Linked DNA regions of Homo sapiens: region 2 is linked to region 1. Evidence: fine-mapped expression QTL. A gene starts in region 1. The other region holds a variant in brackets. All regions are shown on one strand. Distances are between the middles of the regions. Region 1 holds the start of LURAP1 (leucine rich adaptor protein 1). Region 2 overlaps RAD54L (RAD54 like).

Region 1 (10,169 bases):
AGACCTTTAAGGGTTTTTGCAGTATAAAATGTGTTGCTTTGGCAGGGGGCGGTGGCTCTGTAATCCCAGCACTTTGGGAGGCCAAGGCGGATGGATCACCTGAGTTCGGGAGTTCGAGACCAGCCTGACCAACATGGAGCAACCCCATCTCTACGAAAAATACAAAATTAGCTGGGCATGGTGTCACATGCCTGTAATCCCAGCTACTTGGGAAGCTGAGGCAGGAGAATTGCTTGAATCCAGGAGGCGGAGGTTGCGGTGAGCCAAGATTGCGCCATTGCACTCCAGCCTGGGCAACAAGAGCAAAACTCTATCCCCCACAAAATAAAAAAGTGTTGCTTTTCAGCTTTCCCCACTGCTGGCTCGGGACTGAGCATTTTTTAGGTCTGAGTTAGTTACCACTCTTCCTTCTGAATTTCAGTTTCCAAAATTTTGTTCCTATTACCTTGTCTCTTATTCTCATTGTCATAACGGCTTCATGCCTTTTATTTATTTTATTTATTTATTTTTCTCTTTTTGAGACAGAGTTTTGCACAGTCGTCCAGGCTGGAGTGCAGTGGCACGATCTTGGCTCATTGCAACCTCCGCCTCCAGGGTTCAAGCGATTTTCCTGCCTCAGCTTCCCTAGTAGCTGGGATTACAGGTGCACCACCACGTCCAGCTAATTTTTGTATTTTTAGTAGAGATGGGGTTTCACCATGTTGGTCAGGCTGGTCTCGAACTCCTGACCTCAGGTGATCCGCCCGCCTCGGCCTCCCAAAATGCTGGGATTACAGGCATGAGCCACCGTGCCGGCCCTCAATCTGGTATCTTGAACTGGAATTCCCACTGACTTTATTCATTCTTCAAGCCCCAGCTCAAATGTCACCTCCTCGAGGAAGTCTTCCTTGCCCTTCCTCGAGATGGAATTAATCCATTCAGTTATGGAACCAATATTTATTGTTTCTTATTGGTGTGGCACTATGTTCGATGAAGAAAGAAAAGGCATCATTTCTTACCTTCAGAAGGTTCATAATCTAGTGGGTAAGATAAGACAATGAAGCAAGCACTTAAAATTCAGTGTGGTTGGCTTGGCATTGTGGCTCAGCCTGCAATCCCAGAACTTCGGGAGGCTGACACAAACGGACTGCTTGAGGCCAGGAGTTTGAGACTGGCCTGGGCAACATAGCAAGACCCTGTCTCTATTAAAAAAATAAATAAGGCTGGTGGGGTGGCTCACACCTGTAATCCCAGCACTTTGGGAGGCCAAAGCAGGCAGATCACTTGAGGCCAGGAGTTCAAGACCAGCCTGGCCAACGTGGTGAAACCCCATCTCTACTAAAAATACAAAAATTAACTAGGCGGGTGCCTGTAATCCCAGCTACTCAGGAAGCTGAGGCAGGAGAATCGCTTGAACCCGGGAGGCAGAGGTTGCAGTGAGCCGAGATCACGCCATTGCACTCCAGCCTGGACGCCAAGAACGAAACTCCGTGTCAAAAAAAATAATGATAATAAATAAATAATTTAAAAATGAAAAGTTCAGGCCAGGTGCAGTGGCTCATGCCTGTAATCCCAGCACTTTGGGAGGCCGAGGCAGGCAGATCACGAGGTCAGGAGATCGAGACCATCCTGGCTAACATGGTGAAACCCCGTCTCTACTAAAAATACAAAAAATTAGCTGGGTGTGTTTGCAGGTGCCTGTAGTCCCAGCTACTCGGGAGGCTGAGGCAGGAGAATGGGCTGAACCCAGGAGGCGGAGCTTGCAGTGAGCCGAGATCGCACCACTGCACTCCAGCCTGGGCGACAGAGCGAGACTCCATCTCAAAAAAAAAAAAGAAAGAAAGAAAGAAAGAAAAGTTCAGTGTGGCAAACGCTAGTGGAAACAACTGCTATACAGAGGACTGTAGATACCTAGAGGGCCATAACCTAACCAGGTCAGGAAATGCTTCCTAGGATAAGGGACATGAGCTGAAAATTTAAGGTTAAGAAGGACTCAGCTAGGATGGGCGCAGTGGCTCACACCTGTAATCCCAGCACTTTGGGAGGCTGAGGCAGAAGATCACTTGAGGTCAGGACTTCGAAACCAGCCTGGCCAACATGGCAAAATCCCGTCTCTACTAAAAATACAAAAGCTAGCTAGGTGTGGTGGCACATGCCCATAGTCCCAGCTACTCAGGAAGCTGAGGCAGGAGAACCGCTTGAGCTTGGAAGGCAGAGGTTGCAGTGAACCGACATTGTACCATTGCACTCCAGCCTGGGTGATGGGAGTGAAACCCTGTGTCAAAAAAAAAAAAATAGAAGGACTCAGCCAGACAAAGAGGTGGAGAGAAGCATTTCAAGCAGAGGAAACAGCCTGTGCCTCCTTCCAATTTGAAATCGACTTTCTAGAGCACAAACCCAACCACATCACTCTACAGTGAAGACTCTTCCAGGAGGCCCTTCCTGGGTTCTACCAGCACTTATCATCCTGTACTAGAAATGTTCTTCTGTCTCCTCCTTCCCTAACCAGACTGTGAGCTCCCTGAGAGCAGATCCTGCCCAATCCATTTCTGGTGCTTGGCCCAGTGCTAAGGAGGTCACATTCAGTTCTGTGATTCTCTTGCCTTTACTATCCTTGACCCCTTTGATGGTTCCCAGGATTCAGGGGTCTGGGTTGTAGTGTGTTGCTGGGAAATAAATCTGAGAGCAGATTCTATAATCCTGTGGCAGTGGGATTCCCTGACTGTGACAGCATCACTCCCAGAATAGAAGAAAGCAAGGTTTTCTTGCCAGAAAAAGAAACACTCTTTTCACACCATCTCTTGAAGAAAATAGAGTATAGGATAAACAGCTCAGGAGAGATGCAGCCTCAGAGGCGACTCCAAACCCAATTCTCCTTCCAAGGAGATTCAGGCTCCCTACTCCTCTCCTTAACATCTACATACCAGACTCTCTGCCCAGCGCTGGGGTCCTGTATGGTTTCCTCATTGCTCAATATAAATCAGGCCCTAGGGTAAAAGCCTGGAAATCCCAGTCCGAGCTCCCAGAGCGGGGACTATCAGAATATTGTTACTATAAAGGTTCTTAACAATCATCTGGTTTCACAGTCCCCATCTCCCTCTACCCCCTCCACCAAAAGGAGGAAAAACTGAGGCCAGGAGAGAGACAGAGTGCTGCTCAAGACCACAAAACGTTTCAGAAGCAGAGCCAAGACTTGAACCCGTGCATTCTTCCTTGCCTAAAGCTTTTTCTCAAACTGCCTCTGTGGAGGTGGGTTGTCATAGCAACAGTTCTTTGGGTGGGAGAACTAAGAAGAAGTTGCCACTGTTTCCCATTCCCACATATCCCAGTCTGGCTTGTTCACTCAACCTTTGAATGGAGGGTAGAGGAAGAAAGCAGGAGGGACGAGGCCTAGAGGCAGGACTGACCTTGGCCTCAAGGGTAGGCCTTCCCCCTTTGTGCAAGGAGAGCTGGGAGAGGAACAATTGAAGGACAGTCCTTAGAGGGCTTGAACCAGTCCTGCCTTCAGTAGCCCGAAGGCAAATCCCTTGCCCCACCCCTTGTCCTTCCTGGGTGCAACCCAGTAGGCAGGGCAGAGCACAAGAAGAGATTAATATTAATAACATCCTGGCCTGAGGAAGGAGAAAAAATAGGATGGGGATCTCTCCTCATTCTGGCCCCAGAAGGCTCCCTCCCTTGTGCCCTTTCTCGGGCAGCCTCAGGCCCCAGGCAAGCTGGGTCAAGAATACAGAGAGACAAAATCAAAAGTTAAATGCAGCCCCTTAAAGTTTACAGATAGTTTCCACCAAGGCAGAGAAGAGAGCCAGAGACTGGGCGTGGCTCTTCCACTGACTCCCTATGTGAGTTCAGAATCTGCAAGCACGTTTTATCTGTAAGATGGGAGAAATGATGACCAGTTTTCTCATTTCAATGACATAAAATGTTCAGACTATCTGGCACAAAGCAGGTCTCAAAGTAAAGATGCAAAGTGCAGTCAGATGATCTGGGTTCAAATCATGGCCCTGCTTTTTGCGTGATGTTGGGCAGTTATTAAACTCCCTGTGCCTCTGTTTTCTTTTCTTTTCTCCTCCCTCCCTCCCTTCCTCCCTTCCTCCCCTTCTTCCCCTTCTTTTTTTGAGACAGGGTCTAGCTCTGAGCTCTGTCACCCAGGCTGGAGTGCAGTGGTGCGATTTCAGCTCACTGCAACCTCCTCTTCCTGGGCTCAAGTGATCCTCCTGCCTCTGCCTCCAGAGTAGCTAGGACTACAGGCACACACCACAACACCCATCTAATTTTTGTATTTTTTGTAGAGACAGGGTCTTGCTTTGTTGCCCAGGCTGGTCTCAAACTCCTGGGCTCAAGCGATCTGCCTGCCTCGGCCTCCCAAAGTGCTGGGATTACAGGCGTGAGCCACCATGCCCACCCTGTGCCTCAGTTTCTCCATCTATAAAATATCACTTAACAGGGTTACTGTGGAGATGAAGAGAGCATCATGTAAAGTGCTCAGCAAGCTGCCTGGCACATGCACTGGGTGAAAGTTTTCAAAGCAAGTAGACAGTCTAGATAGGCTCTTACTAGGCCTTGAGCTAAAGTTTGTACAGTGAGGCAAAGGCAAGCCCCCGCTTAGGTGGGTACAGTCACAGCCTTGCTCTGGAGAATTGGGCACTCACCTCCAACCTTCAAGGCCAAGTGCACACTTGGCATTCAAGTCCTTCTCCCAGGGGGCCTTTCCTGACTGCTCCACCCACCAGACTCTCTTCCCAGCCTCTCAGCTCAGGCGTCGGAGCCCTGGCTGGTCTCAGAGCCCCCATGATTTCCTTCCCCTTCTCCTTCACAGACCAGCTTGGCACAGGCTGGGCACACAGGAAGACTTTAGCTGACGTACTCACTGTGGGCTCCTGGTTGTGAGCCAGGAAGCCGATGGCAATTCCTCAGTTCCCCAGAACTGGCTGCAAAGTAGTGGCAGGTGTAAATCACCCACTTCACCGGAATCAGGGCCCTGGGGAACCTGCCAGGGCCTCGGCTGCCCTTTTGGCTCTGAATCTAGACCAGCAGCAATAGAGAAAGGGGAGGGTTGCTGTTTCCTCTTCTCCCCAAGAATGTACAGATGAGATCCAAATATCCAGTTTACCTGGAAGACTGGCTGGGAGGAGACTGAGTCTGAGGCGAGGGAATCAGCACCAGTGGTGCTGCTACTCTCTGTCCCTGCTATGGGTCTAGGAACTTTCCATTATTTTAAGTAGGGCTGGGGGATGTAGAGGAAACGGAGAAGGTTTTCAGTGCCCCTGGTCCAGGTAGTTTTCAGCAGATAGGCCCCTTTACCCACTTCTTTTCTGTGCGGAACACTGCGGCCTCACAGGAACTTAAACCCTTTCCCGGTTAGCAGAAGGAGAAAAAACCGGTTGCCTTACAACGGGGACTGGCGGGGAATAGGTGGCCCATACAGGCGGGGGGAATTTGTGCTGCGTTGGGTTCTCAGTACTTCCCAGTCCTCATCTCTCTCCTCCCAATTATTTGGCAGGAATAACTTCCAAAACCCACTGCTCCCAACCCAAGTCCTCAGGACCATCAACACCCCACTCACTCTTGGGGGACAAGTAATGGACGTCACTCCATCTCCACCCCAGCGTTTACGGATTGATCTGGGAGGGATTCTGAGCAGTTAGGTGGAGAGTTTTAACTACCTCCTCTCCAGCTTAACTCTGGGAGCATGAGTTCGTCCCTCCCGGCCCTACACTAGGGACTCGTCCCCTTGGCCCATGGATTCAGCACTCACCAGCTCCATCTTCAGCGCCATGATCTTGTCCCCCAAGTCGTGGCCGGTGCTAGACGCCCCTGGGAGCAGCAGGGCGCCAGAGGTTCCCAGCTCACACTCGCCTCGCAGCCCGCGGAGCAGCCCTTCAGGGGTCTTCCTGCCCACCTTACCCTCCACATCCCGCAGGTCAGGCGTCTGGGACTCCACGGTCCCCTCCATGCGGGCCCAAGCCTGAAAAGGGCTGGGCGACCGGACGCCGGGGACCGGCTCCCGGGGGTCCTCCCTTCGCCGCTGCTAAAGCGGAGCAAAACCGGTGGGTCCCCGCCCGCGCGGCGCGGGGGCGGGAGGAGGGCGCCGTAACACTCAGAAAAGCCGCGCAGCACCGTCTGTGGATGTATTCGAGTGCTGCGCACACAACCTCTGGCCCTGGATTGCGTGGGGCTGGGCGATTCTGGAGTTGGACCTGAAAGAGCACTCGGAGACCTCAGCGCCTTCGCCCCACCCTGGCACTGAATCCAGCCAGGCACACAGCAGGCGCCCAATACATGTTTGCAGAATGAAGTCTAAGCAGCTTCAGTCAGAGATGTGGGAGTTTAAGGAACAGCGGTAACAGAGAGCTGCAGAGGGCTTGGAAGTCTTCCTGGAGCAGAGGAATTGGGTATAAAACGATGACTGGATTTTAGCTAGACACACACACACACACACACACACACACACACACACACCACCCCCCCCCCCCAGGGGCTAGAATTCAGGCTAACGGAGTAGAAAAGGGCAACCAGTACTGAAGCTGAAGAGGTCCACGTTGGGCTTACAAGCAAGATGCTCCTTAAGCTTGACTGTGCGTATGAATTATCTGCGGATCTTGTTAAAATGTAGGTTCTGATTTTGTAAATCTGGGGTGGGGCTTGAGATCCTGCATTTTTTTTTTTTTTTTTTTTTTTTTTTTGAGACAGAGTCTCGCTCTGTCGCCCAGGATGTAGCGTGGTGGCGCGATCTTGGCTCACTACAAACCTCTGCCTCCCTGGGTTCAAGCAATTCTCCTGCCTCTGCCTCCTGAGTAGCTGGGATTACAGGCATGCGCCACCATGCCCAGCTAATATTTTTGTATTTTTAGTAGAGACAGGGTTTCACCATGTTGGCCAGGCTGGTCTTGAACTCCTGACTTCAAGTGATCCGCCTGCCTTGGCCTCCCAAAGTGCTGGGATTACAGGTGTGAGCCACTGCGCCCAGCCAAGATCCTGCATTTCTAATAAGCTCCCAGGTGATGGCCATGCTGCTGGTCCACACTTCAAGTAATAAGGGACCACACTTTGAGTAACAAGGTTACAGAAAATGGTTCTGAGATGTTTGGGTTTTATTTAACAGGTAATGAACAGCCATGAAAACTCTGGTTTGTTTAGGCTTTTAATTCAAGTAATTCCAGCCCATGGTTGCAGAAGGATTTACAATGAGAAGATAGTTACCCCTACCCTACCCTTTCACACCTCTAGGCCCACTCCCAATTGGCAAAAAATAACTTTTAGTTTTTTTTTTTCTTTTGGTGTTCATACCCATAACGTTATTGTTTAGAGTTAACTAAAAGTGGTTGCCAATTGGGAGTGGGCCTAGAGGTGTGAAAGGGTAGGGTAGGAGTAACTATCCTCTTATTGTAAATCCTACCACTATTTTTTCTTTTTTAGAGACAGGGTCTTCCTACATTGCCCAGGCTGGACTCAAACTCCTGGGCTCAAGCAATCCTCCTGCCTCCCAAGCAGCTGTGACTACAGGAGTATGCCACCATGCCCAGCCACACTACTTCTCAATTTTAAACATTCATCTGCTGTTTATTGTCCTATTCAGATAAATATGGATATATGGGTTTAACTCACACTCTGTAGTTCCTTTCCCCCATTGGCAATATATATTTCTTTTCTTTTCTTTCTTTTTTCTTTTTTTTTTTTTTTTTGAGATGGAGTCTCACTCTGTCGCCCAGGCTGGAGTGCAGTGGCACGATCTTGACTCACTGCAACCTGCCCTCCTGGGTTCAAGCGATTCTCCTGCCTCAGCCTCCTGAGTAGCTGGGATTACAGGCACGTGCCACCATGCCCGACTAATTTTTGTATTTTTAGTAGAGACGGGGGTTTCACCATGTTGGTCAGGCTGGTCTCGAACTCTTGACCTCGTGATCTGCCTGCCTCAGCCTCCCAAAGTGCTGGGATTACAGGTGTGAGCCACTGCGCCCGGCCTGGCACTACATATTTCTATCACTCTTTTTAGTTCATCTAAGGTTACCTTTGTAATTAACTTTTTTTAAAATTTAGATAGAGTCTCGCTATGTTGCCCAGGCTGGTCTCGAACTCCTGGCCTCAAGCAATCCTCCCACCTTAGCCTCCCAAAGTGCTGGGATTACAGGCATGAGCCACCATGCCTGGCCTACCTTTATAATTTTAAGTAACATCATTTTCCTTGGTACTTTTTGATCCATGGAAGGGTTTTAAGTTAGAGATAGACAAAACATTTGTCTTTTTTTTTTGAGACAGAGTCCGGCTCTGTTGCCCAGGCTGGAGTGCAGTGGCACCATCTTGGCTCATTGCAACTTCTGCCTCCCAGGTTCAAGCCATTCTCCTGCCTCAGCCTCCTGAGTAACTGGAATTACAGGCACCTGCCACAACACCCAGCTAATTCTTGTATTTTTAGTAGAGACGGGGTTTCACCATGTTGGCCAGGCGGATCCATCCGCCTCAGGTGATCCACCCGCCTTGGCCTCCCAAAGTGCCGGGATTACAGGCATGAGCCACCGAACCCGGCAACATTTGCCTTAAAGAAAATCACTCTGGATTTTGCAAGGAGAAAAGGATAGGAGGAGTAAAAATCTAGAGTCAAGGAGACTGGCTGGAAAGCAAGAAACTGAAATGGCCTGCACTGGGGCTGATTGTGAGGTCAAAGAAGAATTAGACTAGAATGGAAGGCTCTTTAGGAGGTAAGACTGACAGGACTAGGTGACTGGTTACATTCATTTATAGTGGCATTCAATAAAAATTTGTTAAAAAATACAAATGAATGATTTCAACAAATGTTACGGAGAGCTTACTATGTGCCAGCCTTTGTGTGTGGTGTAGAGAATACAATGGTGAGCAAGACATACCTGGACTGGTCACTGGAGACAGACAAGGAGTCAAGGGTGACTCCCAGCTGTTTGGCCTGGTGCAGTTCACTGAGGAGGGGAACCCACAGGAAATCTAGGAGTGAAAGGAAATGATTCCAGAAGTTGTGCTGTTGCGTTAGAGGGGCCTGTGAAGATGTCCTGCTGGACATCAGGCAGCCTGGAGCTCAGGAAAGAGGTTAGAACTGCCAATGTCAGTTTGGGCATCTAGATTGGTAACAGAGGTCATGAGAGAATGAGATCATCCATGAAGAGTCAGTTTGAGGAGAAAAGAGGGTCAGGAAGGAACCCTGAGGGACATCTTTTAATTATTTATTTTTATTTTTTTATTTTTTGAGACGGAGTCTTGCTCTGTCACTCAGGCTGGAGTGCAGTGGTGCAATCTCAACTGCAACTTCTGTCTCCCAGGTTCAAGCGATTCTCCTGCTTCAGCCTCCTGAGTAGCTACGATTATAGGCGCCTGTCACCACGCCCAGCTAACTTTTGTATTTTTAGTAGAGACGGGGTTTCACCGCGTTGGGCAGGCTGGTCTCAAACTCCTGACCTCAACTGACCACCCCACCTCGGCCTCCCAACCTGCTGGGATTACGTGAGTCATGGTGCCCAGCCGGGACATCTTTTCAAATGTAATAAAATGTGTTGGGTTTTCTTCCATTCTTATACATACTTACTAGGAAAAATCATGTATTTCTTTAACTCCTAAGACAAGTACTGTTAACATTTCATTTTGGGGGATATTACCCCACCATTCAGGAAGCAGATGGAATACAGAAAGCTCAAAAAAATCTAACTGGTCTTCTGGCTTCCTCTGTCTGCTTCCAACCCATTCTCCACAAAAAAAGTAAAGGTTCTCTTAAAACAGAAATTGGATTATATTGCTCCCCTGCCTAAAACTGTTCTATGGCTATCCACTTCAAACAAGCATCAACATCACCTAGAAACTTCTCAGGAATGCAAAATCCCACCCTGCCCCAGACCACTGAATCTAAAACTCTAGGGATGGGGCCCAGCACCTCTGTTTTAAGAAGTCATCCAGGTGATTCTGACGCAAGCTAAAGTTTGAGAACCATTGTGTTAAGCTAACTGCTTTCTATGTATGATGTTATTTAAACCTGGCAATTCTTATGTATTGTTGCCAGCAGAGTGCAGTGGTTAAGAGCAGAATCTGGAGCTAGGCTGAGTTTCAATTCCACCTCTCCTAGCTTTGTGATATTAGGTCTTATTTCTTTATCTGCGACAGGGATAGTAATAGCGCCTATAGCCAGCACGGTGGCTCACTGCCCATAATCCCAGCACTTTGGGAGGCCAAGG
Region 2 (10,375 bases), 52 kb before region 1:
CTCACCTCAGCCTCTCAAAAAGTGCTGGGATTACAGGCGTGAATCATCGTGGCCAGCCCCCCTTTAAATATTGAAGTCCTCAAAAACCTCTTTGGAAAAAGTACAGGCTACAGATCCTACTTTGGCTTGTGTCTCTTTTTCCCCAGAGCATCCTCAACCTTGGCAAAATAAATCTCTAAATTGAGACTTGTCTCAGACACTTTCTGATTTATATCCTCTAAACATTGCCACCCACCCTTCAAGGTCCTTCTTTAGTCTAGGAATACTATCCGGAGGCAACAAAGCCAATCAGCCCCCAGTATCTCACTCTCCTCAGGGTTCTAAGCATTGTTTCAGCCCTCTTTTGGCAGACAGTATCTTGTATTTTGGTATCACAGGCTCTCCCTGTCACTTGTCTCCAAGGCAGCATCCTGTCTTCAGCATTCCCCAGTGACTAGCACAGCCCTTGGAAGGCAATACTCAGTGAAGAGATTTTGACAGATTTTCTCCTACCACCCAGACTGCTGAGAGTCAAGTACCTCGTCACATATGACCAGACCAACACTTCCTTTCTGGAGGACTCCAACATGAAGGCGGAAGGTCTCATAGGAAATGATGAGGATGGGAGAAGACACCCTGGCTCCACGCTGGTTCATGAATCCTTCTACAACAGAAAAGGTGTAAAGGGAACAATTCAGAATCTTTTGAAAAAAAAAAAAACAAAAAAAACAATTAGACAGTTCTTTAATTTAGCCTGGAAACAACTGACTCCACTTCAACTATTTTCAATGGAAATTCTCTTTTCTTCTACCCCTGCATTGCCCTCCACCCTGGCCATAAATGAGCATACACGTAAGAAAGCAGCAGGCTGTGCAGGAGAGTGCAGCCATCTTTGTTAGGGCTCCGTACCCAGCTTTTGGTCTATTTCATCCTTAGATCCTCCATCGATGGCCAGAGGTTGGATCCTCCCTCCGAGCCATTTCCCAACCTCATTGTACCAGTTCTTCACCAGGCTGGAAGGCGACACCACCACTGCCTTGTCAATTTCTGGCTTGCACTCTGGACTCTGGCGTAAAAGTGTCCACATCAATGTGATGCACTGCAGCGTCTTTCCTAGGCCCATCTCATCAGCCATGATGCAGCCATGGCTGCCAGGGATGCGCCGACTGGTGACACACTCCCACAGGAATTTCACTCCCTAGAGAATAACAGCCTTCAGTCCACTTTGGCACCTACGCTGCTGCTGTCCCAGGGATGGTAGTCTCCCAGGCTCAGCCCATAGCCCATACCTCGTTCCCCTCACCCTCATTTACCTCTCTCTGATGAGGCCGCAAAACCTTACTGAGAATAGGGTCAACAACCACATGGACAGGGAGTTTCTCCCTGAGAAAACACAGCAAAGAAAACAGCGTGCTCAGACATGGGCAAGGGAGCACCCTCAGGAAGCTGTGTCCTGCTGATCCGGAGGCAACAGAGGCAGCTGCCTAAAAGAAGACCTTCTTGGCTGATAAATCGTAAAACCATAGCAAGTTCCTACTTTAGGAGTTAGAAAGTTAGCTCAGAGAGGGATGGGTTCCCTGTGTCATCACCTCAATCACTCCTCCTCCTGAGTGAGCATCCTGGGAAGGCAGGAGGGGATGAGGAATGCCCACTCACTGGACATGACCACAGGCTCTTCCCCAGGCAGTCTCCTTCCCCAATCATCTACTCTCTGAAAACATATGTCAATCCTAAAAAGAAATCACACCAAAATACCCTCTGCCCTCCCAAGTATGCGTGCATATACAGAGAACCAAAACTGCTTATGAAATACCAGTGCACATACTTGTCAAGCTTCAGCTGGTCATGAGCGCTCAGCGGGGGAGGCTCATACAGAACCAAGGCATCTTTTTCCAGGGGGTCATGGAGGGCCCGGCGGACCCCAGCCCTTTTCAGGCCCAATGCTCGAGAGCCCAGAGGACCTACAAACCAATAATCATTCCGTCACCTGAATCTATGTTTAGGAGCTCCAGCAAGCCCAGCTCAAATACTTGTCCTTCACATAACCTTTCCCGAGCTCCCATATGACCCTCTCTCTCTGAGAATGCCTCCAAACTCAGTTTGGGCATCTCTATATGACCATTATCCCATTCAGCTTTTTTTTTTTTTTGAGATGGAGTCTCACTTTGTTGCCCAGGCTGGAGTGCAGTGGCACAATCTCGGCTCACTGCAACCTCTGCCTCCCAGGTTCAAGCAATTCTCCTGCCTCAGCCTCCCAAGAAGCTGGGATTATAGGCTCCCACCACCACACCCAGCTAATTTTTGTATTTTTTTTAGTAGAGACAGGGTTTCACCATGTTGTCCAGGCTGGTCTTGAACTCCTGACCTCTGGTGATCTGCCCGCCTTGGCCTCCCAAAGTGCTGGTATTACAGGCGTGAGCCACGATGCCCAGCCCCCAGAATTTTTCTGCTTTGAATCAGAGCTTTTCCCGTTTTATTTCTCCCATTCAATTACAAACTTCTGAGGTGCCAGATCTGGTTCATTTCAACTCAAGACAATCCTGGGAAGGCCTGAAATTCTAAAGGGCACTTTCATGGAGCTTTCTGAGAGCTCCTGAGAGCTGGCCACAGCCAAGCGTAGTATCTCAAGCCTGTAGTCCCAACACTTTTTGAGAGGTCGAGGTGGGAGGATCGCTTGAGCCCAGGAGTTCGAGATCAGCCTGGCCAACATAGTGAAATCCTATCTCTATTAAATTAAAAAAAAAAAAAGAGAGAGAGAGAAAGCTGGCCTCCCTATTCCTCCAAGCCCCAGTTTTAGCATAATGCTGTACCCTACATAAGACAGGGAAAAACCTTATAGAATCCAGGCCTCCCACACAGTCAGCCTCATAAAAGGGATGCTACTGAATGCACTTGGATTGAATGAAGCCCAGGTCCATCAGCCATCTTGGCCCACCAGGAGCTTTCTGAGCACCGGGACACCTCTACCAAGAAGATGAGGGGCAGTTAGTCTTGGCAGCCCTTACTGAGGCTAACACAGTTTTCATGCAGGCCTCAGGAGGGTCACCCCAAACACAGCCACCGCTGGACTGGCACCTTCAATTCCCAGCTAAGCTTGTATTTACAAAAGCAGGTTTTTAATTTATTCAGGCACACGTACATATGACTGATTTCAAAAACAGAAAAACCTCCATTTTACCTTGATAATTTGGAATGGGGACTTTGAAAGGCTTTGACAAAATGCTTCGAATAAATGCTTCCTAAAAAGAAAGGAGAAACAAGGATTCAGGACTGACTGGAGATGTTATGGGACAATATCATGATATGCTTCACATTAGGTTTTGTACAACAGCATCCATCTTCGAGGCTTTATGTAAGGTTCTACAAATATCCAGGGATAGCAGAAGGGCCCAGCCTCAGTCAACCACGAGGCTTAGAACCCAGGAAACCATTCACTCATTAAAAACCATGCCAGTGAGCATACCTAGCTCTTCCCTAGGGTATAGCACCTTGGAAAGCAAATACCACAGACTTAGCCAACCTGAGTAATAATGGATAATTCTAATGTCTGGGTTTAACCACTGTCATATAGGGTTACACCTTCCCAAGCACACCTCACAATTCTTTTTTTTTTTTTTTTGGCTACATCAGTTATGTCTAATATATCTAATACTCACATCAGCCTCCTTGGGAACTAAACAGCTCATCAAAGAGTAGTGATGGAGAAATGGGAGCCATCGTATTAATAAAATAATATTAACAACACCAGGCCGGGCATGGTGGCTCACACCTGTAATCCTAACACTTTGGGAGGCCAAGGCAGGAGGATCACTTAGGTCTGGGAGTTCGAGACCAGCCTGGGCAATATAGCAAGACCCCATCTCTATTTTAAAAATATATATTTAAAAATATAAATAAAAATAATGATGGCTACCAATGTATGCTAGACACAGAGCTAAGCCTCTTGCATTCATGTTACCATTTAATCCTAACAGCTGTATGAGGTCCATATATTACTGGTGTTTCCATTTTACAAATGAGCAAACTGAGGCTCAGAGTGATTAAGTCACTTTCTCAAGTCACAAAGCCATTACAAATGCAGGACTTTCCTGGTTCTAGGGTCCTTACTTGTACTCAGTAGGCAACGTGGCCTCTCACCCACTCTGAGTACAGCCATGCAGATCAGCCCAGACCCAGCAGCTTCCTGCCATGTAAAGCACAAGAGAAGGAACATGAGAAAGGGACATGAGAGAGAAGCTAAGCCCAACACTAAGAAAAAGCAAGTGGGACAAGGGTGACAGCAGGTAGACATATGTGGGTCCTAGAGAGGTAGCACTGGTGACTCCTCCACCTAAAGGCAAGAAGCCTCTGTACAAGCACTTCTGCCTTGAACCAGCATTATTCCATGGGCTATGGGGCTGGGGCAGGGGCAGAGAAGGCAGAAAAATTAACACTGAGCTAACTCTGACAGCTCCCATGGAAGTTCTGGTCCACACACACCTGAGCCCTTTGCGGAACTGTGATAGCCTGTGAACCTCAACAAAACCAGAGGTGGAAGCCAAGAGAGCAGAGAAATAAAGAGCAGAGACCCTGAAGGTAGTTTTAATGGGAATATATTAGTGGAAAAAGCAGTAATGAAAAAATGTCCCTTCTAGCAAAAAACATAGTCTAATAGGAAAAAAAGCAAGCCTGCCGTGATATTTTTACCTTTGTTTTCTGACTCATTTCTTCACACATCATCAATGTCTAGAAATTCAAATGTACTTTATTTGTTTTTTGGGGTTTTTTTTTTTTTTTTTTTTGAGATGGAGTCTTGCTCTGTTGCCCAGGCTGGAGTGCAATGGCACAATCTCAGCTCACTGCAACCTCCACCTCCCAGGTTCAAGCAATTCTCCTGCCTCAGCCTCCCAAGTAGCTGGGACTACAGGCACACGCCACCACACCTAGCTAATTTTGATATTTTTAGTAGAAACAGGGTTTCACCATGTTGGCCAGGCTGGTCTTGAACTCCTGCCCTCAAGTGATCCGTCCACCTTGGCCTCCCAAAGTGCTGGGATTATAGGCATGAGCCATCACACCTGGCCTCAAATGTACTTTAAATTTAAAAAAAGTAATGAATTTTTTTTGTGATATTAGAAGACAGAAAACAAGTATGTAGAAATGAACTTCCTTATCACACTAAATAACATGACAACATCACACTAAATAACATAACATAAAGGCAAAGT[T/C]GGCAAAAAACTCAAATGCTTTTGTTTATTTGCAAATTTCTTTGCATCTGAATAAAATCTTTTATTGACTTTTTTTTTTTTTAAAAGACAGGGTCTCATTTTGTCGCCCAGGCTGGAGTACAGTAGTGGTGATCATACCTCACTGCAGTCTCTAAGTCCTGGCTCAAGGGATCTTTCTCTAAGTCCTGGCTCAAGGGATCTTTCTCACCTTGGCCTCCCAAAGTGCTGGGATTATAGGCATGAGCCATTATGCCCAGCCTTTACTATTTTTAATTAGCATGACTGTAACTATGAATAGCAATGATAATCATTATGAAAAATGCTAACAAAAAGGACCCTTGGCCAGTGCAGTGGCTCATGCCTATAACCCCAGTGCTTTGGGAGGCTGAGGTGGGAGGACCGCTTAAGCCCAGGATTTTGAGACCACCCTAGGCAACGTAGTGAGACCCCCCCACACACCCCGTACACAAAATTTAAAAATTACCCAGGCACTGTGGCACATGGTCCCAGCTACTCAGAAGGCTGAGGCAGGAAGATCACTTGGCCTAGGAGTTCAAGGCTGCAGTGAGCTACAACTACACCACTGCACTCCAGCCTGGGTGACAGCAAGACCTGCCTCAAAGGAAAAAAAAAAGCTACTCTTAAGTCAAATGAGAGGAAAAGGAGATGGACCCTAATTTTCTTTTTAATTTGGCATCAATTCTAAAACAGAAATATTTTCAAAATTATCAGTATAGAAGGCTAGATTTGAGGCTCTGAGTAGCCAAGAATTTATGCCCTAAATTTAAAAAGACTTTCAATAGAACACAGGAACCATAGGTTCTGCAGGGAGAACTACAGGCTTGCATAACTGGTAAGGAAGAATGTGGAGACCCCTGGCCAAAAATGTCTGAGGGCTCAGCCTGCAAAATGGAATGGCCTGCTGGGCACAGTGCACGCCTGTAATCCCAGCACTTTGGGAGGCCAAGGCGGGCAGGTCACCTGAGGTCAGGTGTTCGAGATCTGCCTTGCCAACATGGTGAAACCCCGTCTCTGCTAAAAGTACAAAAAACTGAGCTGGGTGTGGGGGCGGGCACCTATAATTCCAGCTACTTGGGAGGCTGAGGCACAAGAATCACTTGAACCTGGGAGGCAGAGGCTGCAGTGAGCCGAGATCGCGCCACTGCACTCCAGCCTGGGTCACAGAGCAAGACTATGTCTCAAAAAAAAAAAAAAAAAAAAAAAAGGAATGGCCAACCTTCAGGGATCTGGTTTGGTGACTCACCAGTCTCTATAGCAGGGGGCAGGGGAGGGAGCATGCTCTTATTCTCTGTTCATTTAGTTACTGATAATTCATACCAATCTTTCCTTCTGATAGATGAGAGACAGCATCCCTCCTCCCCACCAAGGCTAAAGCTTCCCATTTCTGCAGAGAATCACTCTGTTATGACTGATCACTCTTGTATCTCAACCTCTCCCTCTCTACTAGCTCTTACCAGCATTTAAAATGGACTTAATTATCTCCTATCTTAAAAACAAATATTCATTTGATTGCTTATCTCTCCTCTCCACAGGCAAACTTCTAGTAAGTTATATAGCTCCCCTTCTTTCCTCCCACTCTTCCTGTCTTCTGCCCCTTCCACTCTGGCCAAGATCACGAATGGCCTACATGACCCTAATTCCAATGGACATGTATCTTACTTGACGAAGCTGACCACTCCTCAAATATTTTCTGCCTTTGATTTCCATGACACTACTCTCCACCTTTCTGGGATCTCATCTTCAGTCCCCTAATGAGCTCTTTTCCCTCTGCCTTTTAACCCTCAACCCACCCCCAGAGCTCAATGCTCCCAACCGGCTGCAGTGACTCACGTCTGTAATCCCAGCACTCTGGGAGGCCAAGACAGGAGGATTGCTAGAACCCAGGAGTTTGAAACCTGCCTGGGCAACACAGTGAGACCTGGTCTCTACATATCATTTAAAAATTAGCCAGGTTTGGTGGCACACGCCTGTGGTCCTAGCTACTCCAGAGGCTGAGGTGGCAGCAATACCCGAGCCTAAGATTGAGGCTGCAGTGAGCCGTGATCGCACCAGTGCATTCCAGCCTGGGTGACACAGCAAGACCCTGTCTCAGGAAAAAAAAAAAAAAAAAAAAGTCAGTGCTCCCCAGGGCTCAGGGTTTAGCCCTCAGATCTTCTGACTACCCATTCACCAATCCACTTACCAGGTATAAAATTTATCTATGCTAATGAGTCCCAGGTGTATTTCTAGTTATACCTTACTCCACATCCACATTTACAACTGACTCCAGACCTAGATCTCCTGCAGGGACTTCAAAATCATCATGTCTAAGGCTGAAGTCCTCATCTCCAAGGCCACACTATGACTCTTGTGGGCCCCAGGCACTTTTGCCTTTGGGACCCCTTCCTCCATTAAAAAAAGAAAAAAAAAAGAAAAAAAAAGAGGCCAGATGCAGCAGCTCACACCTGTAATACCAGCATTTTGGGAGGCTGAGGCAGGCAGATCACTCAAGGTCAAGAGTTCAAGACCAGCCTGGCCTACATGGTAAAACCATGTCTCTACTAAAAACACAAAAATGTGCCAGGTATGGTGGCGGGTGCCTGTAATCCCAGCTACTCAGGAAGCTGAGGCAGGAGAATCGCCTGAACCTGGGAGGCAGAGGTTGCAGTGCGCCAAGATCACGCCACCGCACTCCATTCTGAGCGACAGAGCAAGACTCCCTATCAAAAAAAAGAAAAAACAAAAACAAAAAAGACTGCATTGGTATAAAGATAACTATAATAATATAATCAGGCTGGATTACTATGTATTTTTTTTCTTCTGATTTCAAAAGGAATTAAAGATCACCATCGCTCTCTAAGTGCAGTGTTAGCTCACCAAGCTCCAGCTGAAGGAGAATGGAGATAAGTAAGCAGGTGAGCCAAGACAGCACCACTGCAGCACTCCAGCCTGGGTGAGAACACAAGACTCTGTCTCAAAAAAAAAAAAAAAAAAAAAGAGTACCTAAGTATATCACTGTGAGTAGAAAAATAGGGGACAGAAATCCGGTATTGCAGTTTGCAGTTTTTCCATTTTCATTTTTTGTGTGAATTCTTTTTTTTTTTTAGACAGAGTCTCGCTCTGTCACCAGGCTGGAGCGCAGTGGCACAATCTTGGCTCACTGCAAGCTCCACCTCCCGGGTTCATGCCATTCCTCAGCCTCTCGAGTAGCTAGGACTACAGGCGCCCGCCACCACACCCAGCTAATTTTTTGTACTTTTTACTAGAGATGGAGTTTCACCATGTTAGCCAGGATGGTCTCAATCTCCGATCTCCTGACCTTGTGATCCGCCCGCCTAGGCCTCCCAAAGTGTTGGGATTATAGGCGTGAGCCAACGTGCCCGGCCTTTTGTGTGAATTCTTAATATAAATGTAGGGATGTAAAGCATTAATACAAGTCAAAATGTTTCAGTGAACAAGTTTCAGCACTTCAATTTTATAACAACCATAAACAAACCTGTTCATATCTTCTGGACAATGGATTTTTTAAAATACAATTTCTTATTGACAGCAACTAAACAGTGTTAGTAGCATTCTTATCATACAGCAGATTCTACCCATTAACTATACTTTTCTGAATTTTCCTATACGCAAGTATTTTTTTTCCTTTTGAGACAGGGTCTCTGTCACCCAGGGTGGAGTGCACTGACAGTATCACGGGTCACTGCACCCTTGACCTCCTCAGCTCAAACGATCCTCCCACCTCAGCCTCCAGAGTAGCTGGGACTACAGTCACGTGCAACCACATCCAGCCAATTTATTTATTGTTTTTTAGAAATAGGGTCTCACTATGTTGTTCAAGTTGGTCTCAAACTCCTGGGCTCAAGTGATCCTCCTGCCTCAGCCTCCCAAAGTGCTGGGATTACAGGTGTGAGCCACCACACCTGGCCTGCAAGTACATTTTTAATGTTGTCTATCTTCTGTTCTATTCCTGTAACTTTGCTATTAAAAGAGAATAGCTCTTGTATAATACATTGAACTTCATGGGCCTCCTGATTACAGTGCCTGCCATCTCCCTCCCACCAAATGCCATTCTTCTTCTGTGTTCCCTATCTCAGCAAATGACACCACCATCCATCTACCTTGCCAAAGCCTAAAATCCCAACTTCATCCTCAATTTTCCCTCTCCCCACATGTAATCAATCCCAAGTTTTTCCACTTGTAATTTTTAAGTATCTCTCAAAATCCACCCACTTCTTCCCATTCCCCATTCCCCTAAAACCCATGTCCAGGCCATAATCCTCTCTTGCTTGGCCACCTGCAATAGCTTTCTCACTAGTTTCCCTACCTCCAGTCTCTCCCCATCCAACAAATATTCTATACTGCTGTTACCTCCTACCCCCACTTAAAACACTTCTAAAGCTCTTCAGTGACCTTAGTCCAGACTCTCCTAGCATGGCTTCTGAAAGGCCTTCCACTCTTAGCCACTGCACAGCTCTCCAACTCTCATCTCTCACCACCATCCCCCAACTCCCCACACTCTCTTTTCAGTACCTGCCTCTATTGCTGCCAGTCTTTCCAATAAGCTGTTCCTTCTATTAGAATGTTTTCCACTCCCTTCACCTGTCTAACCCCTCATATCTTTCAGGACTTAACAGCACATCTCTCAGAGGCAGGTCTTCCCCAATCTCCAGACCCATAGGTCTCCTGTTGTGCACTCCCACAACTGCACTTATGCCATGTAGTTACACAGGACAACTTTGAACAAATCCTGAATGAAACAGTCCCAGAGGATTACACACCATTTTAACACCATTTTCTTTCTTTTGAGACGGGGTCTCGCTCTGTCACCCAGGCTGGAGTGCAATGGTGCCAATCTCAGCTCACTGCAACCTCCACCTCCTAAGCTCAAGTGATCCTCCCATGTCAGCCTCCCAAGTAGCTGGGACAACAGGCACACGCCACCATGCCCAGCTAATTTTTTTTGTATTTTTGGTAGAGATGGGGTTTCACCATGTTGCCTGGGTTGGTCTCAAACTCCTGAGCTCAAGCTATCCGCCTACCTTGGCCTCCCAGAATGCTGGGATTACAGGCATGAACCAACATGCCCACCCAACACCATTTTTTAAAGTTCAAAGAACCAATTAAACAATGTATTAGTGATTTTTTTTTTGAGGTGGTCTCACTCTGTTGCCAAGGCTGTATTAGTG

Evidence for each region.
Region 2: its variant is fine-mapped to the expression of LURAP1 in nasal epithelium (TOPMed, PIP 0.94).

What each region holds. Positions count from the first base shown.
Region 1 is chr1:46,199,190-46,209,358 of GRCh38, reverse strand. It overlaps LURAP1 (leucine rich adaptor protein 1), which reads right to left and starts at 6,025. Exons shown (of 2, transcript NM_001013615.3): 1 at 5,735-6,025. The coding sequence starts at 5,932. It also overlaps a transcript of POMGNT1 not described here. RefSeq lists a silencer at 5,985-6,104.
Region 2 is chr1:46,251,529-46,261,903 of GRCh38, reverse strand. It overlaps RAD54L (RAD54 like), which reads right to left. Exons shown (of 18, transcript NM_003579.4): 4 at 3,158-3,218; 5 at 1,805-1,940; 6 at 1,293-1,362; 7 at 889-1,177; 8 at 519-643. Among named protein-coding and RNA genes, the nearest start is that of RAD54L, 9.0 kb to the right of the region's middle. The variant T/C (reference allele first, on the strand shown) is at 5,187.